Regions from separate parts of the Homo sapiens genome. Here all the other regions are linked to region 2. The links come from fine-mapping of genetic effects on gene expression. A gene starts in region 2. Each other region holds a variant in brackets. All regions are shown on one strand. Distances are between the middles of the regions. Region 1 overlaps LOC124901656 (a long non-coding RNA gene). Region 2 holds the start of ZNF138 (zinc finger protein 138). Region 3 overlaps ZNF138 (zinc finger protein 138).

Region 1 (10,817 bases), 150 kb after region 2:
AACCCAAATGTCCAACAACGATAGAATGGATTAACAAAATGTGGCACATATACACCATGGAATACTATGCAGCCATAAAAAAAGATGAGTTCATGTCCTTTGTAGGGACATGGATGAAATTGGAAATCATCATTCTCAGTAAACTATCGCAAGGACAAAAAACCAAACACCGCATGTTCTCACTCATAGGTGGGAATTGAACAATGAGAACACGTGGACACAGGAAGGGGAACATCACACTCTGGGGACTGTTGGGGGGTGGGGGGAGGGGGGAGGGATAGCATTAGGAGATATACCTAATGCTAAATGACGAGTTAATGGGTGCAGCACACCAGCATGGCACATGTATACATATGTAACTAACCTGCACGTTGTGCACATGTACCCTAAAACTTAAAGTATAATAATAATAAAATTAAAAAAAAAAAAATAAAGAAAGCAACGCAGAAGAAGCAGAATCATTTCATCTGGGTGCTGGGACCAGCAATATGTCACAGTGCTCCCTGTAGGAAAGGCCCAGGCAGGAGAGATACGTCTATTGGTTGCTGCATGCAGAAATGTGTCAGAATTTTTCTTGTTGGCAAAATGCAGGCAGAAATGAAGAGTCACAAGTTTTAGGTGACAGATGCAATTTTTAGGGGATGGATGGATTTCACAAGGCTCCCTGCAGGCAGGGCTCAAGCAGGAGACTCACATTCCCTAGGTTCTGGGTCTAGCAATATGTCATAGTACCAAAAATATGTCGGGCAAAGCAAAAAGAGGGGAGTTACATCATCTAGGATTTTGGTCCACCAATATGTCAAAGATATTGTTTGGCTCTGTGTCTCCATCCAAGTCTCATCTTGAAGTGTAATCTTTATAATTCCCACACGTCAAGGGAGGGACCAGGTGGAGGTAATTAAATGAGGGGGTGGTTTTTTTCCATGCTGTTCTCATGATAGTGAGTTCTCACAAGATCTGATGGTTTTATAAGGGGCTCTTCCTTCTTTGCTCAGAATTTCTCCTTCCTGCCAACTTGTAAAGAAGGTGCCTTGCTTTTCCTTTGCCTTCCACCATAATTGTAAATTTCCTGAGGCCTCTCCAGTCATGCTGAAATGTGAGTCAATTCAACCTCTTTCCTTTATAAATTACCTAGTTTTGGGCAGTTCTTTATAGCAGTATGAGAATGGACTAATAAAGTCACAATCCCCTTTTGGCCATGCCCAGGTAAAAGAGAAGAGTCACATCTTCTAGGTGATGAACAAAAATATATGACAGAATGCCCCTGTGTGTAGGCCCCATGCAGAAAAGTCACAAAACCTAGGTGTTGGCCTCAGTCCTATATCACAATATGCAATGTATGCAAGGTTCAGGCAGTAAAAGAGAGTCACATCACCTGGATCTGAGCCCAGTAATATGTCAAAATCCCTCATTGGACAAAGCCCAAACAATAGAAGAGTCATATTACCTTGGTGGTGTGCCTAATGATACGTCACAATTCTTTCTTGGTCAGAGCCCAATCAGTAGAAGAGAGTCAATTCACACAGGTTCTGGGTTCAGCAACATGTCACAATACCCTTTGAGGAGAGGGCTCATGCAGGAGAGTCACATTACCTGAGTGACAGGCCCAGATATATGTCACAATTTCCCCTTTGGGGAGGGCTCAGAAACAAAGGGAGAGTCACATAACCTAGGGGCTGGGCCCAGCTATATGTCACAATCACCCCAGTTGGCAGAGCCCAGGCATAACAGAAATGTCATATCATGTAGTTGCTTACCCAAGAGATGTGTCACAATTTTCACTGTGAATAGGTCCCAAGAAGAGTCACATTATCCAGGTGATGGACCCAGAGATATGTTACAATGTTCCCTGTTGGTAGAACTCAGAAAAAGAGGAAAATTACATAACATAAAGGCTGAGTTTAGCTATGTCAGTTATCTCAGTGGGCAGGCCCAAGGCATGAGAGAAAAATCACATCATTAGTAAGTGCAAGGCCTGGTGAAATGTCACAATACTTACCATGTACAGGACACAGGAAGAAGAGGAGAGTCACGTCATTTAGGTGATGGGCCCAGAGTTAAGTCACAATGAGTTTTGTGGGCAGGGACCAGGCAGAAGAATCACATCACCTCTCTGCTGGGCCCAGAAATAAGTCACTTTCTCTTCTGTGAGCACCATCCAGGCAGAAAAGGGAGTCACATCACCTAGGTGCTGGGCCCAGAGTTATGTCCCGCCTTGGTCTCCCAAAGTGCTGGGATTTGCCTCTCCTACAGGCAAAGCCAAGGTAAGAGAAGAGAGTAACAACAAATAGTAAATGGGCCCAGAGATATGTCACAATAGCCCCTGTGTGCAGGCTCCAGGCAGGAGACTCACATCACCTTGGTGCTGGGCCCAGCAGTACGTCACAGTGAACTTCAGAGTTCTGGGCCAAGGCAAAAGTGTAACTACACCTTGGTGTTAGGCCCAGTGATATGTCACAATCTTCCCTGTTGGTAGAACCTAGGAAAAAGAGAAGAGTCACATCAGCTAGGTGCTGGGCCCAGCAGTAGGTCACAATCTCCTCTGTAAGGACCAGGCAGGGGAAGAGAGTCATGTTGCCTGAGTGACAGGTGCAGAGGTATATAACATGATGCCCCCATTAAGCAGGACTGAGGCAGGAAAGTTACATCATTTGGGTGTTGAACGTAGCAATATGTCACGATTTTTTTTTTTTGAGACAGAGCCTTGCTCTGTTGCCCAGGCTGGAGTGAGGTGGCATGATCTCAACTCACTGCAACCTCCGCCTCCTGGGTTCAAGCAATTCTCCTTCCTCAGCCTCTTGAGTAGCTGGGATTACAGGTGCGTGCCACCATGCCCAGTTAATTTTTGTATTTTTAGTAGAGACGGAGTTTCACCATGTTGGCAAGGCTGGTCTCAAACTCCTGACCTTTTGATCCACCCACCTTGGCCTCCCAAAGTGCTGGGATTACAGGCATGAGCCACTGCACCCAGCCAATATTTTACAATTATTCCTGGGGACAGGGCACAGGCAGAAGCCATCTAGTACCAAGATGCAGAACCCAGCAACATGTCACAATACCCCTGTGAGCAGTGCCAAAGCAGGAGGGGAGGCCCACATAACCTTGGTGCAAAGCCCAGAGATATAGCAAAATGCCCCTGTGGGCAATACCAAGGCAGGAGAATAATGACACATCACGTAGGTTCTGAGTTAAGCAATATGTCGCAATTCCACCTGTTGTGCCCAGCTAGGAAAGTCAAATCACTCAGGTATTGGGCAAAGAAATATTTTACAATCACACCTGCATAAAGGTCCAGGGATAAAATGAACAATTATGTACATGTCCCGGTCCTAGGTATTAGAGTCGATACCTCCTGTATGTAAGGTCCAAGTACATGAGTCACAATTTCAACAGGTGACTGGATCCATGCTTGGGAGCCACAGTCCCTCAAGTCCACTGTATATTCTTCATAGAGTCACAGCCTCACAGGTTTGCTGAATCTTGGCCTGAGAGTCACAAACCCACCTGTGGACCAGATCCATGTATGGGAGTCAATTTTCCAACTTTTGACTGCCTCTGGTTGTGAGATTCAGGACCCCAACATTGGCTGTGTTTATGTGGTTGAATGACAGTCTTTATTGTTGGCCATGTGTGCATACAAGTGTCACAATTTTACTTGTGTGCTGGATACTGTAGGGACCCTCTCTGTTTTACTAAGGACATCACACAGTATGCATGAGAGTTGCAATCTGCTCTGAAACCTTTGTACTTGGATCCAGAGATATGTCACAATGCTCTAGGTTTATAACTGTATTTGGGCTTATAACCACTATCTTACCTGTGGTTGTAGGCACAGATATGAGACTGAATATCTCTTAAAATGACTGGTTTTAGATAGGAGGGTCTTCACCTGCCTATAAGCTCGGTTTAGAAATGAGTAACCATGGGCTGGGTGTGGTGGCTCACACCTGTAATGCCAGCACTTTGGGAGGCTGAGGCAAGTGGATTGCCTGAGGTCAGGAGTTCGAGACCAGCCTGGCTAACATGGTGAAACACCATTTCTACTAAAAATACAAAAATTAGCCAGATGTGGGGGCAGGTGGCTGTAATCCCAGCTACTGGGGAGACTGAGGCAGGAAAATTGCTTGAACCCAGGAGGTGAAGGGTGCAGTGAGCCAAGATTGCGCCATTGCACTCCAGCCGGGGTGACAAGAGCGAGACTTCGTCTCAAAAAAAAAAAAAAGAGAAAAAGAAATGAGTAAACATTCCAACTGTGGCCAGATGTTCAGATGTTCACATATGCAATCACAAATCTAACCGTGGACTGCATCCATAAGTTGGATTGAGGATGTCACCATTGGGCTCTCTTCATGTGTCAAGGTGACAGTGCTAATAGTTGGCTGGGTGTGTCTATGAAAAGAAAAATCTCCCCTGAATTTACGCTCTCTGCATCACCCAAGGGCTTTATACAATGTGGGAGAAAGTGGTAATTCTTTATGATCTTTGTACAAAGAGGAGACCCAGCATCTTACCTGTTTCCCTCAGCCTAGCTATAAGAGAGAGTATTTATTTTTACTAGCTAATTTGAGGAATGAGAGTCATCATCACACATAGAAGTTAGGCCAAGATATATGTCACAATCTCATTTGTTGGTAAGGATTGAGCAGGAGAGTCACATCAACCGGGGGCTGGGAGAGGAATATGTCACAATCTTCCATGTGGACAGAATGCAGGCTGAAGAGGGGAGTTACATCT[C/T]CTTGGTGACAGACGCAGATATATATCACAAGGCCCTATGCGTGACAATGCAGATATTTATCACAAGGCAGTGCCCAGGCAGGAACTTCCCTTTCTGAAAGTTTTGGACCCAGCAATATGTCACAATATCCAAAGTATGTGGATTTTGAGAAAAAAAGAGAGTCAAATCACAGAGGTGCTTGGTCCACTGATATGTGAGGCCCAGGAAGAAGAGGAGAGTCACATCACCTAGGTGATGAATAAAAAAATGTTTCATAATACCCCTGTGGCCAGAGCCCATGCAGAAGAGTCTCAATGGACCAAGCCATATGTCACAATACACAATATATAGAGTACCCAGGCAGAAGATGCAAGTCATGTCACCTAGGTGCTAGGCCCAGTGGTACATCACAGTCCCTTTCAGGGCATAGCTCAAGCAATAGAAAAGAGTCACATAAACTAGGTGCTGAGTTTGGCAATTTGTCACAATACCCTTTGAGGGTAGGCCCCAAGAAAAAAATTCACATCGCCTAAATAAGGGGGGCAAAGAAACCCCATCCATACTAAAAATACAAAATTAGCTGGGTGTGGTGGTGGGTGCCTGTAATCCCAGCTACTTGGGAGGCTGAGGCAGGAGAATCGCTTGAACCCTGGAGGCGGAGGTTGCGGTGAGCCAAGATGACACCATTGCACTACGTGCTGGAAAACAAGAACAAAATTCCATCTCAAAAAAAAGGAGAAAAAAAAAAGGTAGGTGTTGGGCCAAGCCATATGTCACAATCCCTGCCATGGACAGGTCCCAGAAAGAAGAGAAGAGTCTCATTATCTAGGTAATTGGCCCAGAGACATGTCACAATAACTCCTGTGGGCAGTGATCAGGCAGAAGAATCACATCACCTGTATGCTGAGCCCAGGAATAAGTCATTCTCTCTTCTGTGGAAATTGCCCAGACAAGCACAGCAAGTCATATCACCTAGGTCCTATGCCCAGAGATATGTCACAATCTTTCCTATGGGCAAGTCCCAGGCAAGAGAGGAGAGACACATTAAATAGTTGGTTGGCCCAGAGATAGGTCACAATGACCCTGTGGGGAGGTTTCAGGCAGGTTCACCTTGGTTCTGGGCTCAGCTATTTGTCACAATGTCTTCTGAGGGCAGGGCCAAGGCAAAAGAGTAACGTCACCTTGGTGCTGGGCACAGTGATATGTCACCATTTCCCTTGTGGGCAGAACCTAGAAAAAAGAGGAGAGTCACATCAGCTGGATTCTGGGCATAGCAATATGTCACAATACCCGCTGTGAGCAAAGACCAGGTAGAAGAAGACAGTGACATCATGGAGCCTCCTGCAGGCAGGGCCATGACAAGACAGTTACATTACCTGAGTGCAAGGCCTGGTGATATGTAACAATGTCTACTTTGGGCAGTGCCAAAGCAGAAGAGAAGACTCACATCACCTGGGTGCAAGGCCCGGTGATATGTCACAATGCCCACTGTGGGCAGTGCTGAGACAGGAGACTAGATCACATTACCTAGGGGCCAGGTCCAGCAACATGGCACATTTTGAACTGTGGGCCGGGCCCAGGCAAGAGAGTCAAATCACTTAAGAGCTGGGCAGAGACTTATTTAACTATCACACCTGTAGGAAGGTGCAGGGATGGTATTAACAAGCCCACACATGTCCGGGTTCTAGGTATGAAAGTCAGCACCTCTTGTATGTTGGGTTTAAGTACATGAGTCACCATCTCAGCAGTGGACTGGATCAGTGCATGGGAGCCTCAATCTTTCCTGCAGACTATCTCACCTTAGTAGAGTCCCAGCCTCACAGGTTTGCTGAATCTTAGCCTGAGAGTCACCAGAACACTTGTGGACCTGATCCACATATGAGAGTCAATTTTCCAACTTTTGACTGCCTCCAGGTGTGAGTTTCAGAATCTCAACAGTGGGCTGTGTTCACGGGAAATGATAACAATCTTTACTGTCAGCAGGGTGTGATATGGGTGTACGGTCAATCCTCTTGGGAGAGATTGACCCAACATACAAGATATGTTGACACTCCCACCTAGAACTAGAACATGTGTGGGATTGTGATCTTATTCCTGGACCTTCCTGCAAGTGTGATTGTGACATACACCTTTACCCAGCACCTAAGTGGTTCGACTTTGCTGCCTGGAGTGAACTCACAGATAAAATTGTGACATATTGCTCGACCCTGCACCTTGGTGGTGTGACTCTACTCTCAAGCCTTGTCATTGCCCACATGAAGAATTATGACATACTGCTGGGTCTTGCACCCAAGTTATGTGAGTCTTTTCTTCTGCCTTGGTGTTGTATACAGGGAGCATTATGATATATTGCTGCATCCTGTGTCAAGGATTTGTGGCTCTTCTGCCTGTGCCTTGCCCACATGGGCCAATGGGACATACTGCTGAGTCTAACACTTAGGTAATGTAACTCTCCTGCCTGGGCACTGCTTACGGGAAACATTGTGACATATTTGTGTACCTATCAACCAGGTTACATAAATCTCTTCTCCTTCCTGATTCCTGACACTTAGGTAATGAAACTTCCCTGCCTGGGAACTTCTTACAGAGGACATTGTGATATATGTGTGTACCCATCAACCAGGTTACATAAATCTCTTCCCCTTCCTGATTCATGCTAACAGAGGGGATTGTGGCTCTTCTATTGTTTTTAGGTTCTGTCTTCAGGGAAAATTGTGACATACCACTGGACCCAACACTAACAGGATGTTACCGTTTCGCTTTGGCCCTGACCTGGAAAGGCATTCAGCCCTATTGCTGGGCCTAGCACAAAAATCATGTGGCTCTTTTGCCTGGAGACACATTGTGACATATCTCAAACTTATCAACTATTTGATGTGACTCTCTATTCTTACTTGCACTTTGCTTTTGAAAGATTCTGACATATCTCTGTCTCTGGGTCCTCTCCTTCTGGACAAACCCCCTCAGAAAAAAAAAAAAGTGACTTATTGCTGACCTCAGCACACAAGTGATGTAATTCTTCTGCCTGGTCCCTGCCCACAGAGAGCACTGCAACGTATTTTTTAGTCTATAAACTTTTGATGTAACTTTCCTCTTTTACCTTAATCCTCCACATGGTCCCTGCCCACCCAGGGCATTTTGACATATCTCTAGGCCCCTCAACTATTGGATATGATGCTCTTTTCACATCTGAGCTTTGCCAAAAAGTGAGATTCTGATATATACCTGTGGGCTCAGCACCTAAATAATATGACTCCTCCTTTGCCTGGGTCCTGTATTCATTGTGTGTTATGACATATGGCTGAGTCCAATACCTACATGATGTGACTCTCCTGCCTGGGTTTTGCCCACAGGGTACTTTAAAATATCTTTTTCTTTATTACCTATGTGATGTGACTCTCTTATTCCACCAGAGCCCTGCCAAATAGAAGGATTGTGACATATCACTGAACACAGCACCTAGGTGATGTGACTCTCTCCTTTTGCCTGGGCCTCACATATTTTGGGTATCGTAACAAATTGCTGGGCCCCACCACTGGGAGATGGGAGGCTTGTGCATGGATCCTGCCTATGTGGGGACCTTTTGATACTTATCTGCATCTATCACTTAGAAGATATGACTTTCCTACCTGCACCCTGCCCACAAGGAAGATTGGGAACTATCACTAGGCCATGCGTCCAGGTTATGTAACTCGGCTGCCCGTGTTCTGCTTTCAGGAGGGAATTGTCACAATCTCTTCTACAGGCAATGCCCAGGTAAGAGTAGAGAGTTACATCAAGTAGTTGACAGGCCCAGAGATATGTCACAATGTCCCCTGTGGACAGAGTTCAGGAAAGAGACTCACATCACGTTGGTGCTGGGTCCAGCAATATGTCACAATGCCTTCTGAGGGCAAGGCCAAGCCAAAGAGAAAAGAGCAATGTCACTTTGGTGCTTGGCCCAGTGGTATTTTACAATCCCCCACATGAGCAGTGATCAGGCAAAACGAGAGTGTCATATCACCTGCGAGATGTGCATAGAGATATGTCACAGTGCCCCCTGTAGTCAGGGTCTAAGCAGGAGAGTTACATTACCTGGGTTTTGGACTAAATAACATGTTATAATGCCTTATGTGGGCAGGGAACAGGCAGAAGAATCACATACCTTGGGTGTGGAGCCCAGTGATATGTCACAGTGCCCCCTATGGGCAGTGCCTAGGTAGGAGAGGAAATTCACATCACCTGGTTACTGGCCTAAAAAATCTGTCACGATTTTTTTTTCGTGGCCAGGGTTCAGGCAGAATGAAGAGTTACATCTCCTAGGTGATAAATGCAGAAATATGTCAAAAGGCCCCCTGTGGACAGGGCCCAAGCAGAAGCCTCCCAGCCCCTGGGTGTTGGGCTAAGAGATATATCACAGTACCCAAAATATGCTCAGGCCAGTAAAACAAGAACAGTCATATTACCGAGGTGCTGGGTCCAGTTATATGTCACAATCCCCACTTCTGGCAAAGCTCTGGCAGAAAAGGAGAGTCACATAACTTAGGCAATGAATAAAAAGATACCCCTAAGGGCAGAGCCCATCAAGGAGAGTTGCATAACCTAGGTGTTGGACCTGACCCTATGTCTCAATACACAATGTATGAAGAACTCAGGTGGGAGGGGAGGGTCACACTGCCTAGGTGTTAAGCCCAGCAATACAACTAAATCCTTTTTTTAGGCAGATCCCTAGCAACAGAAAAGAGTCAGATCACCTAGATGCTAGGTCCAGCAATATGTCACGATATTCCTTGAGGAAAGAGCCGAGGTAAGACAGTAACATCATCTAGGTGAAAGGCCTAGCAATATTTCACAATCTTCTCTGGAGACAGAACCCAGAAATAAAAGGAGTCACATCAGCTAGGTGCTCGGCACAGTGAAATGTCATGTTGGGTATAACTACATGAGTCACAGTCTCAATGGTGGACTGGACCAAAGAATGAGAGCCTCAATCCATCCTGTGGACTGTGTCTTCTTAGTAGAGTGATGGCCTCACAGGTTTGCTAAATGTTGATTTAAGAGTCACAAACGCAAATGTGAACCAAATCTACATATGAGAGTCGATTTCCCCACTTCCCTGCCTTTGGGTGTGAGATTCAGAACCTCAACAGTGGGCTGTTTACGTGGAAGGAAAGAAGTTTATACTGTTGGCTGGGCATGCATATGAAGGTCACAATCTCAGCTGTGTGCAGTGCCCAGGCATAAAAGAAGAGTCCAATCGCCTAGGTGTAGAATTAAGAGATTTTAATCTCTTTTTTTTTTTTTTTTCAGACAGAGTCTCGCTCTGTCACCCAGGCTGGAGTGCAGTGGCTTGATCTCAGCTCACTGCAAGCTCCGCCTCCCAGGTTCATACCATTCTCCTGCCTCAGCCTCCCGAGTAGCTGGGACTACAGGCGCCAGCCACCACACCCGGCTAATTTTTTGTATTTTTTAGTAGAGACAGAGTTTCACCGTGTTAGCCAGGATGGTCTCGATCTCCTGACCTCATGATCCGCCTGCCTCGGCCTCCCAAAGTTCTGGGATTACAGGCATGAGCCACCATGCCCGGCCTTAATCTCTTTTTTAATCTCTTCTGATACTTCTGTGGGCAAAGTCCATTGAGGAGAGCCACATCATCTATGTTTTGGACCCAGCCATACATCACAATGCACAATGTATTCAGGGCCCAGGCAGAAGAGGGGAGTCAAATAACCTGGGTACTGGGCCCAGTGATACATCAAAATACCTCCTTGGACAGGGCCTAAGCAAAGGAGGAGAGTCACATCACATCAGTGTGTGTGCAAAAATATGTCACAATACCCCTCTGAGTGAATGGCTTAGTCATGAAAGTCATGCCACCTAGGTGAGGGGCTCGATAATATGTTGCAATTTTCTCCATGTGTAAGGCTCAGTAAGAAAAGAAGAGTCACATAACCTAGGGTCTGGGCCCAGCTTCATGTCACAATCATTCTAGTTGGAAGAGCCAGAGAATGAGAGGAGTGTTACATCACACAGGCACTGGGCTCAGCAATAGGTCACAATTCCTGCTGTGGACAGGTCTCATGAAGAAAAGGAGAGTTACATCATCTAGCTGATAGGCCCAGAG
Region 2 (10,817 bases):
GAGGTTGCAGTGAGCCAAGATTGCACCATTGCACTCCAGCCTGGGCAACAAGAGCGAAACTCCATCTCAAAAAACAAATAAACAAACAAAAATAAAAACACAATCCCATTCACAATTGCCACAAAAATAATAAAACATCCAGGAATACAGCTGATCAGGCAAGTGAAAGATCTCTACAAGAATTACAAAACACTGCTTAAATAAGTCAGATATGACACAAATATATTGAAAATTACTTTATGCTCATGGATAGAAAAGATCAACATCAGCTGGGTGGCATGACTCAGCCTGTAATCCCAGCACTTTGGGAGGCAGAGGCGGGCAGATCACCTGAGGTTGGGAATTCAAGACCAGCCTGAACATGGAGAAACCCCGTCTTTACTAAAAATATAAAATCAGCTGGGCGTGGTGGCGCATGTCTGTAATCCCAGCTACTCAGGAGGCTGCGGCAGGAGAAATCACTTGAATCCAGAGGCAGAGGTTGCGGTGAGCCGAGATCGTGCCATTGCACTCCAGCCTGGGCAACAAGAGCAAAACTCTATCTCAAAAAAAAAAGAAAAGAAAAGATCAATATCATTAAAATGGCCATACTGCCCTAAGAAATTTACAGATCTAATGTCATTCTTATCAAGCTACCAAAAACATTCTTAACAGAACTAAAAAAACTATTTTAAAATTCATATGAAACCAACAAAGAGCCTGAATAGCCAAGGCAATTCTAAGCAAAAAGAACAAAGCTGGGCATTACATTATCCAACTTGAAACTATTCTATAAGGCTGTAACCAAAGCAGCATGGTAGTGATTAAAAAAAAAAAAAAAAGGCTCATAGAACAATGCAACAGAATAGAGCCAAGAAATAATGCCACACATCTACAACCATCTGACCATCTGATCATCAAAAAAGCTGACAAGATCAATGTAGGAAGAATTTCCTTTTTTTTTTTTTTTTGAGTCGGAGTTTCACTCTTGTTGCCCAGGCTGGAGTGCAATGGCTCAATCTCGGCTCACCACAACCTCCGCCTCCAGGTTCAAGCGTTTCTCCTGTCTCAGCCTCCTGAGTAGCTGGGATTACAGGCATGGGCCACCATGTCCGACTATTTTTTTTGTAGGGTTTCTCCATGTTGGTCAGGCTGGTCTCAAACTCCCGACCTCAGGTGATCCACCCGCCTTGGCCTCCCAAAGAGCTGGGATTACAGGCGTAAGCCACCATGCCCGGCCAGAATTCCCTATTTAATAAAATGGTACTGGAATAACTAGCTAGCACTATGTATAAGATTTTCTTTTTTGTATTTAAAAAAATAGCCGAATTTTTCTTCAGCGGTCAAATAAAATACTTCTTAATCAAAATATAGTTAAGTTTATCTCCTTCCCACAGCTCCTGAACTTTGAGCTACTCAGTCTGAGCCAACATACAACCCCATTTTATGTTTCTCCTAAAAACTTGCTGACTTCAGGGTAAAACATTTTCTAATCTAAAATCTGATTTGGGCTGAGCGTGGTGGCTCACGCCTGTAATCCCAGCACTTTGAGAGGCTGAGAAGAGCAGATCACCTGAGGTCAGGAGTTTGAGACCACCCTGGCCAATATGGCAAAACCCCATTTCTAGTAAAAATACAAAAATTAGCCCGGCATGGTGGTGGGCGGCTGTAATCCCAGCTTCTCAGGAGGCTGTGGCATGACAGTCACTTGAACCCAGGAGGCAGAGGTTGCAGTGAGGTGATATCCAGCCACTGCACTCCAGCCTGGGCAACAAAGTAAGACTCTGTCTCAAAAAAATAATTTAATTAAAAAATAAAAAATAAAATCTGATTTATACACCCTCCATTTGCCATTCCCCTCTCACCTTCTAATCTTTTTTGCTCCTCCCTAAGAAAGCCTTTATCTGCCTAAACTTTGCAATCCTTAAAGATTATATAGTTGGTACTTCCTTCTGTTGCAGTATTTTAGAATTTTTTAAAAAATAAACCTAATTTTGTTTTATTTTACAAAGTCTAGAAACTGCCTCAAAACAATAACAACTTCATCCTGAGTATGACCCTCCCAATCCCCTTCCATCTTAATGTTTACTGCATCTGCCTGTGGGTCTCCAGTTTTCCAGGGCTCTGTAGCTTCTCTCAGTATAAAGGTTCTTCCATGGCTGGGGTGAGCAGGCTCCGACATCCGCAGGGGAGGCTTCCTAGAAAGAACTAACTGGGCCTTTAATAACCTCCCTTCCCTTTGTAGGCTCAATATTAGCCTTAGCTTGCAGTCACTGGCGCAAGCTTTAATTTCCATGTCGGAGTTGTTCAAATGGTTTTTTAAACTGAAAAATTCAGCAAAATTACTCAAACACAGTGTTTATATAAGGGAAGGAAATTTTAAAGCACTTACGTCACATATCTCAAATGCAAAAGTATGTAATCTTTTAAAACGATAAATAATTATTTTATTATATCCATTAAAAATGATGTAGTAAACAATTAGTCATATGGGAACACTTCTAGGATAGACCAAGTTTCATCTTAAAAAATTTAGCATTAACCTCAGAAATCAAGATGACTGGATACAGAAGAGAGGTATTCACTGAAATGTACCCTGAAAAAGGAGGAACTGATATTTTCATGAATCTGTATAACTCACCAATTATCTACCACATCTTCTTGTGGAAATGTATTCATTTTCTTTCTTTCTTTTTTCTTGAGATGGAGTCTCGCTCTGTCGCCCAAGGTGGAGTGCAGCCGCACGATCTCAGCTCACTGCAACCTCTGCCTATGGGGTTCAAATGATTCTCCCACCTCAGCCTCCCGAATAGCTGGGATTACAGGTGCCTATCACCATTCATGGCTAATTTCTAATTTTTGTATTTTTAGTAGAGATGGGGTTTCACCATGTTGGCCAGGCTGGTCTAGAACTCCTGACCTCAGGTGATCTCCCTGCCTTGGCCTCCCACAGTGCTGGGATTTCAGGCATGAGCCACCGCACCCCGCCGGAAATGTATTCGTTTTCCACAGCCAAAATGGAAGAAGTATTTTCCCTATTCTTTTCCTTGGTAGCATTCTAAAAGCTAAGCCTTGGAATACTCTTGGACATCACCCAGCCATAAAAAAACAGACCTGAGAAAATTCCTAAACTCAGTCTGGGAAAGAAAAAGGTAAATGAGAATACTTAACAAATAGAATATATGATTAGATATTTTTTTCCAAAACCCATCTCTTTCATGCCCATTCTAATTATCCTCTTACCTTTTAGTCCTACTAATAAACTGCAAGTTACAATTAAAACACTGAAGTAAGTGAACAAATCTTTTCAGGGTGACAATCCCAGGGAGTGGCAGTGCTGATTAAAAAACAGATGTATCTCACTCACATGTCAAGTCAAGCCACCCAATCACTTGAGAGATTCTCCCACCCCATCCTGCTCACTTAAGTGCTAAACGACCACCCTCTCTGAAGACCACCCTCTCTGAAGACGCTGCACTATGCCTCAGTGACTGCCCCAAGTACATTTCACTTTGCAAGTTCTTGAACCATCTCACTGGGGTAAGGTTTGATTTGTCTTTTTGGATACTATCATTTCTTTCACAAATCTTAGAGAATCCAGTGGGCCGAAATTATTTCTGTGTTCTCCCCTCAATACCAGCATATGATTGATTGACCAGCAATATGTCTCCGGAAATGGACACTGGGTTGGTTTGAAGACAATCTTAACTTCTCAAAGGGTTTGCTTTTCAAAGGAAGAGTACACCAGGAGATTCCTCTCAGCCCCAGGGCATTCACCTGCTCCCTTGAGAGGCTACACTCCAACCTCAGGTTGTCCTCTGTCTCCCATTCCCAGATAACCAGAGTTCATTCCAGGCCAGGAGCTGAAATTTACCAGAGATTCTAGCATACACAGCCACAGTGGATATTTTGATTTATCCTCAGAAAGTACTGAAACCCAGGACCAAGGAAAAAACTGAAGAGTGACTAAGGACACATTACCTTATAAAGTTTCCAAAGGGAAACCTTGACCCAAAAATATTCTGATAAGATCTCTGTACCTAGGGAAGATTTAAAAAAAAAAAAAAAGGCACAGAGATTTTTTACAATACAGCATCAGGGGATGAGTCTTTGGTTTCTTCTCATGGGAAATATTTACAAACAGATAACAAATCTTTTTTAAAATGCCATCCATGCTTTGTCAAAAAATGATTAATTAAAATACAGTATTTCAAATGTACACTAAAGGACAAATAGTTGATAATGTGAATTAGGAAGGGGAAGTTGGCATTTGGGAATGTCAGAAGGAACTGGAAATTTAGTATTTTACTGCAAGCCAGAGTTAGGCTGAAGGAATGGGAAATGGGGAGGGGGAGGAGTCTTGAGACCCTGCTTGGGACACATGTGAAAAATGAAGGGGAAGATCTGTCCCCTGTGGAGTGTGAAAATAATTAAGTGGCAGGCAATTAGACTGAGGTCGCTCCAGTCCCAGGGTTTCTGGTTTTAAAAAAATCTAACTCAAATGCATTTTTTTGTAAATTACTACCTTGTGAAAAATAAAATTCATGTTTAACCAACTGTAAACTGCCAATTAACCTCTGATTACATGACCAGGAAATTTCCTCCTTCATTGTACAAATTAAGAAACTACATAACTCTACTAACCAATTACTGAATTTGGTTTTATCATACACCTTATACAAGTGTTTCCTTCAAACCCCTCCCACGGACCACTACTGCAAACCACAGCTGGGTGCTCCACAATTCTTGAATCACTGTTTGATTAAATTAATTTTTTTGCGGTGACTTTCATAAATTTTAATAGGGGAAAAGAGGGACAGGGAAGCCCGCGGAGGAAACCTCTTCCCATTCATGAACCCAGCACCCCGAGTCAGGATTCTCCCCTGACGACCCTCCCGTCGTCTCTGCACAATCGCTGCGGGTGCAGAGCTGCTCAGAGAGGGCTCCAGGCCAGGGCACAGTCACTGCGCAGGGAGGAGACAGGACGCCTGGTTCCGGCTGTCAGCCCAGCTGCCATGCTATGGCTTAAGGGGACTGAGGGCCGAGCTGTGCCAAGAACTCGGGGCCGCGGATTTTGCAGCCGACTGCGGGAAGACCCGAGTACTGCCACAGCCACTTCCGACCGGTTCCAACCAGCTCCCTCCCCCTCTCTCGGGATGTCGGACCCAGCACTCTCACCATTTCTAGGCTTCCGGGGGATCCTGGCGTCTTAGCTGTGAATCTCCCAATAACCAGATCACAGCGCCACAGAGGCTGGGCCTCTAGGAGTAAGAGGACGCAGAAAAGTGAAGGCCAGACCTGCAGCACCCGCTGCAGCGAGACAAAGACCCCGCCGCCTCCCGGAAGACGTCATGTCCGCTCCAGCTGGGTGCCTGATTGGACCGTTCCCAGCCCGGCGTCCCTGATTGGATAACGTTTAACAACCCGCCCCCTCAGGCCCTGAGTGACAGATGTGCTCAGGTGCTGGGCTGAAGGAAGACAGAGTTAAACCTAAGCAGCAGCCTTTTCCAGAAGGGCTTCCTCCCTGAGCTGAGTCAGGCCCACCCCAGAGGGCATTTGCATTTAACCTTGTGTATAAGGTCGTATGCATTTATAAATAACATATAGCTATTCACATCTGAATATAACAATTATTTTTAAATTCCAGATTTTATAACCGTACTGGCTTCTGGTCCTTTGAGCAGGCAGCCTGAGATTTTTTTCTTTTTTTTTTTTGAGACAGAGTCTCACTCTCACCCAGGCTCAAGCACAGTGGCACGATTTCGGCTCACCCCAAACTCCGCATCTCGGGCTCAAGTGATTCTCCTGCCTTAGCCTCCTGAGTAATTGGGATTACAGGCACCCGCCTCCACGCCCGGCTACTTTTTGTATATTTAATAGAGACAGAATTTTGCCATGTTGGTCAGGCTGATCTCGAACTCCTGACCTCAGGTGATCCACCTGCCTCGGCCTCCCAAAGTGCTGGGATTACAGAGCACATGTGAATTCCAAATTTTCTAGTAGTCAAACTTTAAGAATAAACAGGTGGAATTCACTCTAATTGAGATGGTTAGTCATTTAGGCTGGGCTCAGTGAGACCATTCTTGTGACCTCAGCTGAGTTCCTTCAGACATGTATCATCAGCTGCTTGTTGACTAGGCAGCTGTGCTTCTGGGGGTGAGCTTCTGCTTCTGAGGCTGTCAACAGAGGCAACTTGCTTCTCCTCCCCATACTATTTTATCTTCCATCTGGCTAACATGGGCTTTTTTCGCGGAGATAGTAGCCTTCTGAAAGAAAAACAGAAGCATGCAAAACCATTTGAGCCTACGCCTCAAACTAGCACACTGCACTGTTCACAGGTTTTTACTGCCCTGAGCAAATAAGGCCAGCCAGATCTAGGGTTTGGAAAACAGAACTGGATCTCAATGGAAACAGCTGTAAATGCACCTGGCAATGGGCATGGATAGCGGAGGGATGAAAAATTGCTAACATTTTTGCAATCAGTATCATTCTGCCTTTTTTTGCATATGTGGTTTATATAACTCTTCCACATCAAAAAAAAAAAAATTTGTGCAAAGACCCACAGCTATTAAGTGGCTGGGCTGGGACTCAGAATTAACTCCATTTGACCCTTGAAATCCTGGAGAGTGACACTTCTAAAATAGAAGCCAGATTTCTTTTAGATTTGTGCCCATATAGCACTGTTTATTATTATTGCTAGAAATAATCTTAAGAAATTGAAGAAGCACACGGTAGCTCACATCTATAATCCTAGCACTTTGGCAAGCTGAGATGGGAGAATCACTTGCGCTCAGGAGTTCAAGTGCAGCCTGAATAACATAGTTAAGATCCTATGTGCATGAAAATTTTTTTTTTTTTAATTAGCCAGTCATGGCCGGGCGCGGTGGCTCATGCCTGTAATCCCAGCACTTTGGGAGGCCGAGGAGGGCAGATCACGAGGTCAGGAGATCGAGACCATCCTGGCTAACACGGTGAAACCCCGTCTCTACTAAAAATACAGTCCCAGCTGCTCGGGAGGCTGAGGCAGGAGAATGGCATGAACCCACGAGATGGGGCTTGCAGTGAGCCAAGATCCCACCACTGCACTCCAGCCTGGGTGACAGAGCGAGACTCCGTCTCAAAAAAAATAAAAAATAAAAATAAATAAAAATAAAAATTAGCCAGCATGAGGCAATCCTGTAGTCCCAGCTACTCAGGTGGCAGAGGCAAGAGGATTACTTGAGCCTGGAAGGTCGAGGCTGCAGTGAGCCATGATTGGTTACGACACTGCACTTCAGCCTGGGTGGTGAGAGTGTGATCCTTTCTCCAAAAAAAAAAAAAGAAAAGAAAAGAAACAGAAAAGAAAAAAGTTGCAGGAGCATTTCAAAAGGACATAGCATATGTGGAAAAAGATAGATGAGGGATGAGTTGAGAAAATCAAAGCCCAGCAACACATTACTTATTTTTTATCATAGATAAAATCTGTAAACATCTAAAAAAAAAAACAAAACCTTCAGAGAAATTGAATGTAACAGAGTCTAAATGAACAAAGAATGATTTGCAAATCAGGCAGCCTGTGGGCCCAGAATAGGCTCAGAGAGACTCCAGCACAGCAACATGGTAAAAAAATTGATCAACAGAAAAAGCAAAGTGGCATACAGAAAATGAAATTGAGGTACAGAAACAGCCAAATTGATTACAGCTTGGGATTTGCCTTATTTGAACATGGTTTGAAGAGTTGATGTCCTTTTATTGGCAAAATCACAGTGGCTGGTACAGGAATGGGTTATAATCTACTTACATATCCAGTTAGGTTTCAGTTTAGTATGTACCAAAAAAAAAAAAAAAAGAAAAACAAACAAACAAAAAACCTACTGACCAAAATTAAACATGAAAACAGAGAGCTTCAGGCTATAATTTAACAATTTCTCCTTTTTGGTTATCTTCTCAATTTTGAGAGATAGACCAAGTTATCAGCTAAATAAATGGTCTCCTCATTTCAACCAAGCAGCCTGTTTCTTAAACCCCCGTAACTGAATCTCTGTAATACGTGTAATATATTTCTGTATAATCTCTATAATATATTTCTCCATGTGCAACTATGCATATTAGCAACTACACAGATACTTTTCTGTTTATGCAATAAGTAATCTCAAGAAATTCCATTATTTAGCACAACTTTAGTAAAAAAAGTCTATTGTGTAACCATAGCCTTTGCAGTAGAATCTGCTATAGAGACTATTATGAAGGATAAATGTCTAACCAATGCCTGATTTTTTTACCCTGAACCATGAAAAAAAAAAAAAAAAAAAGACCTAACAAATGATGCTTATTTAGAAGAGTAATGGCCAGGCAATGCTCTGAAACTTATTGTGAATGAGTTCTTTTTAACTTCTGAAGTAGGTTAAGAGCAGTGGACCTATATTCTGTGTTTCTGATATTATGAGGCAACAAATGTCCCATTAGAATTTCTCACCCACATTGACCCTTCATCTTGTACCTATCAAGGCATAAGTTTGTTCATATATAAAGTTGGCTGCAAAATTCTCTAGAGAATTAGATAATTAGTAGAGACGGGGTTTCACCATGTTGGCCAGGCTGGTTTCAAATGCCTGACCTCAAGTGATCCAACCGTCTCATCCTCCCAAAATGCTGGGATTACAAGCACGAGCCACTGTGCCCAACCTAATCCCAGCACTTTAAAAAGCCAAGAAACAAAGACTGTTTAAGCCTAGGAATACAAGTCCAGCCTGGGCAACATGGCAAAACCCTATGTTTACAAATAATACAAACATTAGCTGGGTATGGTGGCCCGCACTTGTAGTACCAGCTATTTAGGAGGCTGAGGAAGGCGAATTGCCTGAGCCCAAAAGGTCGAGGCTGCAGTGAGCCGTGATCAAGCCACTGTACTTCATTCTGGGTGACAGAGGGAGACCCTTTCTAAAAAAAATAAAATGCCAAAGCATATAAACTTAAACTTATGGAGTTTTCTGTGTTTCTTGTTTTTATCATTACTATTTCAATAGTTTTGGGGGTACAGGTGGTGTTTGGTTACATGAATAAGTTCTTTAGCAGTGGTGTGTGAGATTTTGGTGCACCCATCTACAGAGCAGTATACGCTGTACCCAATGTGTAGTCTTTTATCCCTCAACCCCACACCGCCCTTTCCCCCAAGTTTCTAGAGTCCATTATGTGACATAATTCTTATGCCTTTATATCCTCATAGTTTAGCTCTCACTAAAAAGTGACAACATGCCATGCTTGGTTTTCCATTTCTGGGTTACTTTACTTAGAATAATGATCTCCAACTTTATCCAGGTTGCTCTGAGTGCCATTATTTTGTTTTTTTGTTTGTTTGTTTTGAGACAGAGTCTTGCTTCGTCGCCCAGGCTGGAGTGCAATGGCGCGATCTTGGGTCACTGCAACCTCCGCCTCCCGGGTTCAAGTGATTCTCCTGCTTCAGCCTACTGAGTAGCTGGGATTAGAGGCACCTGCCACTACACCCAGCTAACTTTTGTATTTTTAGTAGAGACAGGGTTTCACCATGTTGAACAGGCTGGTCTTGAACTCCTGACCTCAGGTGATCCGCCCGCCTTGGCCTCCCAAAGTGCTGGGATTACAGGCCTGAGCCACCACACCCGGCCTGAGTTTCTTGCAGATTCTGAATATAAGTCCTTTGTTGGAAGCATGGTTTGTGAACCTTTCTTCTCACTCTGTGGGTTATCTGTTTACTGCTTGAATTATCTCTTTTGCTGTGCAGAAACTTTTCCGTGTAATTAAGTCACATTTATTTATCTTTTTTTGTCGCATTTGGTTTTGGGTACTTGGTCACAAACTTTTTGACTAAGCCAATGTGTAGAGGAGTTTTTTCTATATTATCTGCTAAAATTTTTATAATTTCAGGACTTAGACTTAAGTCTTTGATCCATCTTGTGTTGATTTTTTAAATCTTTTTTTGTTTGTTTGTTTGTCTGAGGCAGAGTCTCGCTCTTTTGCCCAGGCTGGAGTGAAGTGGAACAATCTCAGCTCACTGCAATCTTTGCCCCCCTGGTTCAAGCGATTCCCCTGCCTCAACCTCCCGAGTAGCTATGTAGCAGGATGAGCCGCAGACAAAACTCCTCAGACACTGGATTAAAGACGGAAGAGTTTTTTATCTGGCCGGGAGCGTCGGCAGACTCACGTCTTAAAAGCCGAGCTCCCCGAAAGAGAAATTCTTGGCCTTTTTAAAGGCTTGCAACTTTAAGGGGTCCACGTGAAAGGGTCGTGATACATCAAGCAAGCATGGGAAACGTGACTGGGGGCTACATGCATCAGCTAACAGAACAAAAAGCTTTACAATGCTTTTTTCATATAGTGTCTGGAATTTACAGATAACACAAGTAGTTTAGGTCAGGGGTTGATGTCATTATTGTTACTTTTTTTAACTCCTAGGGCCGGGTGGTGGTGCCAAGGTTGTCTGGCTATTTATCTTACTTTTGTTTTTTTTCCAACTTTTTGCTTTTTCTCTCCTCCTGTCTTGTGAACTAGGCAAGGTGTGGGAGGAGGGCAGCAGGAGTAGTAGTGGTCTCCTTCCTTAGCTGGAATTACAGGCACTGGCCACCACACCCGGGCTAATTTTTGTATTTTTGTATTTTCTTATTTTTTTGAGATGCAGTCTCGCTCTGTTGCCCAGGCTGGAGTGTAGTGGTGTGATTTGGGCTCACAGCAATCTTCGCCCCTGGGGCTCAAGCGATTCTCCTGCCTCAGCCTCCCAAGTAGCTGGAATTATAGGTGCCGGCCACAACGCCCAGGCTAGTTTTTGTATTTTTGTATTTTTTTGAGACGAAGTCTCACTCTGTTGCCCAGGCTGGAGTGCAGTG
Region 3 (10,817 bases), 43 kb before region 2:
ACAAAATAAATACACATTTACTTATTTATTACAGATGGTGATGACATGGAAGACACTAAAAGGGAAGGTGTTGCTTACAGACTTATGACTGGCCACTCTGGGAACACAATGAACAAGTTTGCATAAAAAGTAACACAAAATAATCTAAAAGTTGCCATCATCTCCAGAATTTTTCCAGAGAAAATGACCAAGAAGTTGACGACAGGTGACTAAGAATATAAACTGTACACTGACCTTCACTCACTAAAAAGACACATAAAATAACAGGGTGAAATTCCTCTGAGTTGTAATATCAATATGGACAAGAAATATTATTCCAAATTTCAAATCCACAGAGGTCATTTTATTATTTTGCAACCTTTAACATTCACACTTAAAAATAAAAGATTCAGCAGGGCACAGTGGCTCACGCCTATAATCCCAGCACTTTGGGAGGCAGAGGAGGGCAGATCACGAGGTCAGGAGTTCGAGACCAGCCTGGCCAACATGGTGAAACCACGTCTGTACTAAAAATACAAAAATTAGCTGGGTGTAGTGGCAGGCACCTGCAATCCCAGCTACTAGGGAGGCTGAGGCAGGAGCATTGCTTGCACCCAAGAGGCGGAGGTTGCAGTGAGCCAAGATCACGCCACTGCACTCCAGCCTGGGTGACAGAGCAAGATTCCATTTCATAAATAAATAAATAAATCTGTGTTGTGCTATATCATAGAACATTAAATTTAAAATTCCTCACCACTAACTCTTAATAATTTAATTTCTAAGATGCATTTTCTAGCAAATATTAAATGTGTCACACTCTGTGTAAGAATTTAATAAGATTTTCCGTTTACAAACAGAAAAACAATGCTAAGTTATTTAATCCTCTGATCTATGGACAGTGTATGCGTTTTATCTTAATTAACTGATCTGAAAGTTATATTGATAAGCAAACTCTCTAACTAAAACCAATTTTTGAGTGCATTAAAAATACCAACTTTCTCATCAAAACCTACAAAGTACCATGTAAAATGACATGGCATGAAGACAATGAGAAAACTGTAGCAATCACGTAGAAAAAAGGGAGAGGGGCTGTGATGAATACACAGAAGACACATAATAAGACAAACAAAACTAAAGATAATTAGGAAATAAAAGAAACAGAGTTTCTCTTTAGGTTCAGCAATATTTAGCTTCGCAGCATGAAAACAATTGTTATCTCCACGGGAAGAATCAATCTTATTTCTTCACTATTGATATTTTCCCTCTCCGACTTGAACTTACAAACTAACTCTAGCAGGAATATTTATGGCTTATCATGGAGCATCTGCTACACAGCAAGCACTGTCATGTTTGTTCGCCACATTTATATATTAAAAAACATCATGACTTATGAAGCATCCCGAGTTCTTATCTGAACAAATTGCCTCAATAAATATATTTATGTCAATTATAATGAGAACAAAAAAAGTTAAAAAATACAGGCTTATGTAGAATTCTCCAATTAAAAGAAAAAATCAAATGTCCTAATAAAATACACAATTTTGGAAATACATCTAAAAATTGTTCAGTGTGCATTAAATTTTATAAAAATCGTTATTAGTCATGACCAGCTCACGTAATGAATACCTCATAAACTATAAAAGAAAAAATCGTAAGAGACAAGAAAATTATAGGTCTAGCATGAGTACTAGGCAAGGAAAAACAGAAATTTTTCATGGGGAGATTCTGAACCCTAAGTCAGAAGATTTTACAGTAATAAATTTAAAAAAAAAGCAGAGTATAGATTTGCTTTCAGCATTTTTGAGGTTTTCAGTTTCAGTTAATAAGTCACCTTATTAAAATATTTGTTTTGTTACAATATTGCTCTATTCTTCTGAAAATAGGTACAGACTCATCCTCATATATACTCTATAATTTTCTTGCACCTAAGGTTTATTTAGAGTAACATACGTGCATAGCTAATTTTATGTAAATTAAAACTAAAATTCTGTATGTTTGCAGGCAGAGAGAGACCAAATGTTCAAAGAAAAATACATAACAAATTTTTTTAAATGTTTAAGCAGAACTCAGAATTTTAAGACTCAGGGTTTTATTTATACTTGTAAATAATTTTTATTTCACTCATAAAAATGACCCTGTAGTCAGTAGCATTTAATTGTACATTTTAAAGTAAGTAAAAGTGTAGAATGGGTTAGTAATCCAAAAGATAAATGCTAGAGTTGATGGAAACTTCATTTGCCCTTATCTGATTAATACATAAATTATATGACTGTATCAAAAAATGCCATATAATGACATAAATATAAACAGATACTATGTACACACAAAAATTGAGAAAAATAAGTTTAAATTATAAATAAAAAATTTAACCAACGGGAACGATATTCATTAATTTATTTGCAGTTTGAAGCCACTGGCAAAATAAATTATTGGAGATGTTAGTCCATTATGTTATCAAATAGTCTATTGTTACCATCTTTGACCTACACCCTTGAGTAAGGTAGGATAGGTAAAAGTTAGTGGCATAATAATACTTCATTGAATGCACAGTGGTCTTATGTTAAAATTTTTAATTAAAAAATTAAGTTTATAATAATCTAAATCTTTAAAACTGTGATTGGACTCTGGTGAAGACTCCAAGATGGCGATCGCCACCTCAGATACCCCGACTCAGCATTTCCAGGTTCACCTTTCCTGTTCCCACCACCCCGACTAACGCGCATGCCCACTAGGACGTGTCACACTCAGAAGCGCGAAACTCAACCGACCCCGCCCCTACCCCGCCCACTCCTCACCCAGCATCCATAAAAGTGCGCTGCACCTTTGGCACAGTGCGACTTCCCTGGCCCTCCCGCTGCGGACCAGTGAACCTCACCTGAGAGCTCAATAAAGAAGATTTTTGCCCTCTTTGTCTCGCCTCTCCGCCTTATTGATCCATGGTGCCCTTCCATTGCCTTTCATTGGTGCCGAAACACGGGAGGGGACACCTCCTAAGCCCCCCAGAGGCTCGGGAAGACTCCCCTCCTGGTCGGATCAGGCCTCTCCCTCAGTCAGGTCAGGCTTCTCCTCCACGGCCATCGGTCCATTTCGTCCGGTTACTTGCCGCCAGGTCACAGCTGCTGCAGCTACTCCAGTCCAATTCGGCAGACGCTGGGTGAGTACCCCTCCTTTTTCCTTTTGTCCATTCCTCCCTGGCCGAGAGTCATGCGCACACCCAGGGAGAGTTTCCTTCCTCAAGGGAAGGCCAGTCCGGGTCACCAGGAGACCCAAGTTTACTTCCCCAGGGGAAGTCCAAATCGGCATTGACGACTCAGAGACGTCTGTGTCTGAAGTAGCCGATCCGAGGCTCCAGGAGCTGCGTGGTCTGAGTGACCCCAGAAGGACGCTTCTGCTGTCCCTCAGACGGCTGCCATAAAGGGAAGAGGATGGGGTCCACCCAGTCCAAAATCACGCAAAACACCCCCTTAGGGTGCCTCCTGCGCAACCTCCCAACTTTACAACTCGACCAAGATTTAAAACGAAAGCAACTAATTTTCTTCTGCACAGTTGCCTGGCCGCAATATACCTTAGACAACCAATCTCGCTGGCCCCCCGAAGGCACACTCAACTTCAATATCCTAAACGACCTTACCAATTTTTGTCAGAGGCGAGGCAAATAGTCAAAAATCAAATTTGTTCAAAGGTTCTGGGACCTCCGCTCTCGTCAGACCGCTGCCGCCAAGTGTTTTCGCTGGCACAAGTCCCTCTGGCTAGCCTTCCCCTTGAAGTCTGACCAGCCTCTCTTGCCATTAATCTTGTCCACGGCCCCCATCTTAGTCTCTCCGCCGCCATCTCCTTCTGCACCACTGCCATCTTACTACCTGCTTCCTCACCGCCGCCATCTTACTTCCTTTTTTCTCTGCCACCATTTTAGTTCTTCTGCCGCCATTTGGCCGCCATTTTAATTCCTGTTAGTTCCCATTTGTTCTTTTAACCCTGCCCACCTAACTCCTTGGCTTCCATCTTACCCCCATTCTTATTTCCACCTCCCTGTAGTGCCATACCAGTCCACTACATCTACAACTCCTAACACATTCGCTGCGGGCAGTGATATCCGCTAATCCTGGATGAGGCAGCGGAGGGCCCCCAAACCCCTATCCAGGACTTAGTAAAGCTGGCGTTCAAAGTTTTTAATTCCCGAGAGGAGGCGGCTGAGGTACAACGACAGGCAAGACTGAAACAAAAAGTTCAGCTCCAAACCCAAGCCCTGGCAGCTGCCCTGCAACCGGCATTCCCTAAGAGCCCCAGCAGGAGAGGTAGAGGTACGATCTCCCAGGCCCCGTCTGGCACCTGCTTCAAGTGCGGCAACTCAGGACACGGCCAGCCGGTGCCCTAGCCAACAGCAACCGTCCTGCCTGCCTTGCAACTGTTTCAAGTGTGGCAATCCAGGTCATTGGGCAAAACAGTGCCCAAACCCCAAGCCGCCAACACGCCCGTGCCCTAACTGCCAACAAATGGGGCACTGGAAGTCAGACTGCCCCGGCCTCGGAGCGGCCGCTGTGTCTCCACATGGCGACCCCTCCTCGGATGGCGAAGGTGCCCTCCAGCTCCTCCAACTGGATGACGACTGAAGAGGCCCAGACTTGGGAACCCCTCTCACCCTTGCCGAGCCCAGGGTAATGCTTCAGGTAGCGGGTAAGTCCATTTCCTTTTTACTAGACACAAGGGCTACCTACTCTGTTTTGCCATCTTTTAGCAGACCCAGCCGCCCCTCCTCAATCTCTGTTATAAGGATTGATGGCATTCCCTCCACCTACCGCCAGACGCCTTCACTGCCCTTCCGCCTAGACCACTATATAACTTTCTTGAACCCATAATCTACCATCCTTCCCTTTATTCCTTACTAAAGCAAATACATCAACTTATCTTCTTACTTTAGTAAACACTTTCTCAGGTTAGGTTAAAGCCTGCCCTACCACTCATAAAACAGCAGAGGTAGTAGCTTCAACCCTCATCGAACAGATAACCCCAAGATTTGGCCTGCTTTTATCTCCAAAATAGTCAAACAGGTGACAACCACACTTGACGTTAACTGGAAGTTACACACTCCATACCATCCGCAGTCTTCTGGAAAAGTGGAACGCGCCAACAGCCTTGTCAAACAACACCTAATCAAATTGGCTCTCGAGACGCGCCAATCTTGGGTAACCTTACTTCCCTTTGCCCTCGCGTGGCTCTGGGCAGCACCCCAAAGCCCCACAGGCCTTAGCCCCTTTGAACTCCTATACAGGCGCCCCTTCCTCTTTCAAGAGCTCCCTGTGAATACCCCACCTCTTGGCACGTACCTGCCCTACCTCACCCTGTTAAGGGAGCTGCTAAGAGAACATGCCAACTGCAGCCTTCCAAAGCCCGGACCGCTCAGCCCAGACAGTCCAGCCATAATAACCCCAGAAGATCAGGTACTAGTAAAAGACCTCCAGGCAAGAGGTCTCTCCCCCCGTGGAAAGGCCCCTACATGGTAATTCTTACAACACCGACGGCAGCTAAACTTACAGGCCTTCCCTCCTGGTACCATATTTCCCATCTTAAGAGGGCACCTACACAACATCAGGCCACTTGGACTGTCACTTCCCTCCCCCCAACCAAACTGAAACTCTTTAAATCAAATACCGCATGAATTCTCCATGTGACAGGCTCCAACAATTTATTCAGGTTCTTCTCGAGGAAAGCTGGTCATTCCCTACTTTTGCTAACACCTTTCGCTGGCCTGAAAATCTGTTGTCCTATATAGACGAACTGGTGTGGCAAGGCTCCCTCCAGAACT[T/C]TCACCAACATGAAGTTCGCTTTGACAAGCCCCCTCTCAGACTCCCTCTCACTGGGTTTTTTCCCCTCACTGAGAATTGGAGTTCCACACAGGCAGTCTCCTAGACTACTAGCCATGGCAGCATGCCCGCCAGCAGGGTGCCAGGCACCCATAGCTTTCCTAGGTCTAAAATTCTCTTCCCTAGGCCAGGCTAGAAAAAACCCTGCACTTTGCTTCCTGTATGATCAAAGTAACTCCAAATGCAATACCAGCTGGGTCAAAGAAAATGTAGGCTGTCCGTGGCACTGGTGCAATATCCATGAGGCATTAATTCGTACTGAAAAAGGATCTGACCCAATGTTCTATGTCAGTACCTCCACTGGAGGATGGGACGGCTTTAACGGATTTAACCTCCAAATCTCTGACCCTTAGGACCCCCGCTGGGCCTCTGGTGTAGATGGAGGACTATATGAGCACAGAACTTTTATGTATCCAGTAGCTAAGATCCGCATTGCCAGGACCCTTAAAACCACTGTCACAGGGTTATCCGACTTAGCCTCCTCAATCCAGTCAGCCGAGAAAGAGCTTGCCAGCCAGCTTCAACCGGCAGCTGACCAGGCCAAGTCCTCCCCCTTCTCGTGGTTTTTAATTTCAGAAGGTGCACAATTGCTCCAATCCACAGGGGTACAAAACCTCTCCCACTGCTTCCTCTGTGCAGCCCTCGGAAGACCTCCCTTAGTAGCAGTTCCTCTCCCTACCCCCTTTAATTATACAAGAAATTCATCCACCCCTATACCACCGGTCCCAAAAGGACAGGTCCCACTATTCTCAGACCCTACAAGACACAAGTTCCCGTTCTGTTACTCTACCCCAAATGCCTCTTGGTGTAACCAGACCAGGATGCTTACCAGCGCCCTGGCACCACCCGGAGGCTACTTCTGGTGTAACTCCACACTAACTAAAGTTCTTAACTCAACTGGTAATCACACCTTGTGCTTACTCGTCTCTCTCATCCCTAGCCTGACCCTATATAGTCAGGACGAACTTAGCCATCTGCTAGCCTGGACCGAGCCAAGGCTGCAAAATAAAAGCAAACGGGCTATTTTCCTACCCTTAGTACTAGGCATCTCCTTAGCCTCCTCCTTAGTGGCATCAGGGCTAGGAAAAGGAGCCCTCACCCACTCAATCCAAACATCTCAAGATCTGTCTACTCGCCTGCAGTTGGCCATTGAGGCATCGGCCGAGTCCCTGGCCTCCCTACAGCGACAGATCACTTCGGTAGCACAGGTCGCAGCACAGAACAGGCGGGCCTTAGACTTGCTTACAGCAGAAAAAGGAGGGACATGTTTATTCTTACAGGAAGAATGCTGCTATTATCTCAACGTGTCAGGGGTAGTTGAGACCAATTTACAAACTTTAAAAAAAAAAGATCCAAGAGGAGTTAAAACATTCCTAGGACCCTCTCCACCCTGGTCCTTCTTGGTGGTTTTCACCTGTGGTTCAACAGATGCTCCCTTTCCTTATCCCAATTATAATTCTCTGTATAATAATGTGTTTTGCCCCAATCCTAGTACAGTTTCTCCGCCAGCGGATACAAGAAATCACCAGGGTCACTTTCAACCAGATGTTACTTCACCCCTACGTCCAACTGCCAACCTCTGATTTAGGCCCTCTCCCCAGTGACACCCCTTAACAGCAGGAAGTAGCCAGATGATTTCGTCGCCCCTTTTCTATAACCAAAAATAGGCTGGACTGATTGGACTCCAGTGAAGACTCCAAGATGGCGATCACCACCTCAGATACCCCGACTCAGCATTTCCGGGTTCACCTTTCCTGTTCCCGTCACCCCGACTAACGCGCATGCCCACTAGGGCGTGTCACACTCAGAAGTGTGAAACTCAACCGACCCCGCCCCTACCCTGCCCACTCCTCACCCAGCATCCATAAAAGCGCGCTGCACCTTTGGCACAGTGCGACTTCCCTGGCCCTCCCCCTGTGGACCAGTGAACCTCGCCCGAGAGCTCAATAAAGATTTTTGCCCTCTTTGTCTCGCCTCTTGGCCTTATTGATCCACGGTGCCCTTCCATTGCCTTTCAAACTGTACTGCATTTTATTACATAAAAGTACAATTAGTAAAATTATATACTAATTAATTTTAACTAAAATTATTTTGTTTGGAGTATAACGCAGAATACTACTCTGAACACTTACCTCATACATCACTCAATATTATAAATTAAACACAAAGAGCCTCTCCACTTAGACTTTTGTCATGCATCCTACATTGTAATGTCTTTACTCTTCCATAGAAAAATTCAAAAACAATATTGACATAACAAAAAAGAATCTCTCATACCTTTGATGCAGCAACAATTGATCACATGCTTTCACTAGTGAATGCAATAGGAATGAAGAGCATGAAGTAATTTGAGTTGAATTACATTATTCACTTTTCATAAATTCTGCAATTTTTTTCAAGGAAAAAAGTATACTTTGAATGTAATTGTAACTCTGCAAAAATATTTCTACTTCTTTTAAAGTTATGTACAAATAATTTATCTACCCACTTTAGTTTTGGGTTATTTTATATACTCAGCACATTTACTTAGTGCAATGTTTGAAGTGTCAGTGCCTTAGATATTTTTACTGTGAATTCTCTGATACTTACGTAGCCTTATTTTTGATTTTTTTTATATTTACTGCATGTGGAAAAATATAGTTTAGTATGCATCCCCTGGTGTTTTCTAAGATGTAGTTTTTGAAAAATTTTTGAAATGTATTACATTTGTAGTTTTTCTCCGATATAAATTCCCTGATGTTGAACGAAGTTTGAGCAACTGCTTCGGATACAAAATGTGTACAATAAGATCTGTGATACAAGTAAGGCAGGCACTACAACCCTCTTTATGTTTCTAATGTTTGTCTTCAAAATAAAAACTCTTTTTTTACTTTAAAGGCTTATATTGGCTGGGAACAGTGGCTCACACCTGTTATTCCAGCACTTTGGGAGGCAGAGGTGTATGGATCATTTCAAGTCAGGAGTTCGAGATGAGCCTGGCCAACACAGTAAAATCCTGTCTCTACTAAAAAATACAAAACTTAGCCGGGCGTGATGGTACATGCCTGTAGTCCCAGCTATTCTGGAGGCCCAGGCAGGAGAATTGCTTGAACCTGGAAGGCAGAGGTTACGGTAAACCAAGATTGCACCAGTGCACTCCAGCCTGGGAGAGAGTATTACGTAGTCTCATTTAAAAAAAACAAAACAAAACAAACAAACAAACAAACCACACACTAAAACAAAACCTTATGCTGAGTTTTGACAGTAATTGCATTTATAATGCTTTTATTAAGTACTAACTCTCTAATGTTGAATAAGATGTAAGCACATATTAATGGCTTTTCTACATTCTTTATATCAGTACAACATTTTCTGAAGTATAAATGCTTTCCTGTGCAATAAGGTATAGGAATTAAAGTTTTGCCATATTCTTCACACTTCTGGGAGTTTCTGCCAGTATGAATTATCTTACCTACAATCAAGTGTGACAACCATTTAAAGGCTTTGTCACATTCTTCACATTTTTATAATTTCTTACCAGTATGATTTCCTTTATGTTTAGAAAAATTTGAAGGTTTTGTTAAAATCATTTTCACATTTTTCTGGTTTGTAACATTTTCAGTATTAATTTTGTTTAGTAAGATTTGAGAATTGGTTAAAAGCATTACCACATTCTTCATATTTGTGGGGTTTCTCTCCAGTATGAATTATATTATGTGCAGAAAGGGTTGAAGACTTGTTAAAGAATTTACCAAATTTTTCACATTTGTGGTGTTTCTCTCCTGCATGAATTTTAGGTGTAAGAAGTTTTGAGGATTGTAAGTTTTACCACATTCTTTGAATTTCCAAGGTTTTGCTCCAGTATAAATTATCTTATGTATAGTAAGTGTTGAGACTTGGTTAAAAGCTTTGCCACATTCTTCACATTTGTAGAGTTTCTCTCCAGTTTGAATTTTCTTATGCATAGTAAAGTTCGAGAACTAGTTAAAACAACTGCCACATCGTTCACATTTGTAGGGTTTCATTCAAGTGTGAATCATCTTATGTATAGCAAGTTGTGAGAACTGGTTAAAAGATATGCCACATTCTTCACATTTGTAGGGTTTCTCTCTAGTATGAATCTTCTTGTGTTTAGTAAGGTTTGAGAGTTGGCTAAAACCTTTGCCACATTCCTCACATTTGTAAGGTTTCTCTCCAGTATGAATGATCTTATGTGCAGTAAGAGTTGAGGACTTCTTAAAGACCTTGCCACACTGTTCACATTTGTAGGGTTTCTCTTTACTATGAATTTTCTTATGTCTCATAAGGTGTGAGGACTGGTTAAAAGCTTTGCCACATTCTTCACATTTGTAGGGTTTTTCTCCACTGTGAATTATCTTATGTGTAATAAGAGTTGAGGACCAGTTAAAGGCTTTTCCGCATTCTCCACATTTGTGGGGTTTCTCCCCAGTATGAATTTTCTTATGTGTACTAAGGATTGAGTATCGGTGAAAAGCTTTTCCACATTCTTTACATTTGTAGGGTTTTTCTCCAGTATGAATTAACTTATGTTCAGTGAGCTTTGCGGACTGGTTAAAAGCTCTGCCACATTCTTCACATTTGTGGGGTTTCTCTCCGCTATGAATTATCTTATGTGTAATAAGGGTTGAAAACTGGTTAAAGGCTTTGCCACATTCTTCACATTTGTAGGCTTTCTCTCTAGTGTAAATTTTCTTATGTTCAGTAAGTTGTTAAGATAGGTTAAAAGCTTTGCCACATTCCTCACATTTGTATGGTTCCTCTCCAGTATAAATTATCTGATGTTTAGTAAGGGTTGGGGACTGCTTAAAGACCTTGCCACATTGTTCACATTTGTAGGGTTTCTCTTCAGTATGAATTATCTTATGTCTAGTAAGGTGTGAGGACTGTTTAAAGGCTTTGCCACAGTGTGCACATTTATAGGGTTTTTCTCCAGTACGAATTATCTTATGTTTAGTAAGGATTGAGGATTGGTGAAAG

The links. PIP is the estimated chance that this variant, and not a neighbour inherited with it, causes the effect. A credible set is the group of variants that fine-mapping cannot tell apart.
Region 1: its variant is the best candidate, but not a certain one, in a credible set for the expression of ZNF138 in whole blood (INTERVAL, PIP 0.74).
Region 3: its variant is the best candidate, but not a certain one, in a credible set for the expression of ZNF138 in whole blood (INTERVAL, PIP 0.70).

Annotation. Positions count from the first base shown.
Region 1 is chr7:64,634,614-64,645,430 of GRCh38, reverse strand. It overlaps LOC124901656 (a long non-coding RNA gene), which reads right to left. Exons shown (of 7, transcript XR_007060350.1): 4 at 5,825-5,944; 5 at 2,000-2,479; 6 at 1,758-1,861. LOC105375326 (a long non-coding RNA gene) reads left to right here and starts at 9,353. Exons shown (of 3, transcript XR_927602.2): 1 at 9,353-9,500. The variant C/T (reference allele first, on the strand shown) is at 4,735.
Region 2 is chr7:64,788,912-64,799,728 of GRCh38, reverse strand. It overlaps ZNF138 (zinc finger protein 138), which reads right to left and starts at 5,301. Exons shown (of 4, transcript NM_001271639.2): 1 at 5,158-5,301. The coding sequence starts at 5,160. RefSeq lists enhancers at 4,701-5,261, 5,046-5,285, 5,526-5,575.
Region 3 is chr7:64,831,935-64,842,751 of GRCh38, reverse strand. It overlaps ZNF138 (zinc finger protein 138), which reads right to left. Exons shown (of 4, transcript NM_001271639.2): 4 at 9,072-10,817. The coding sequence ends at 10,550. Among named protein-coding and RNA genes, the nearest start is that of ZNF138, 43 kb to the right of the region's middle. The variant T/C (reference allele first, on the strand shown) is at 5,783.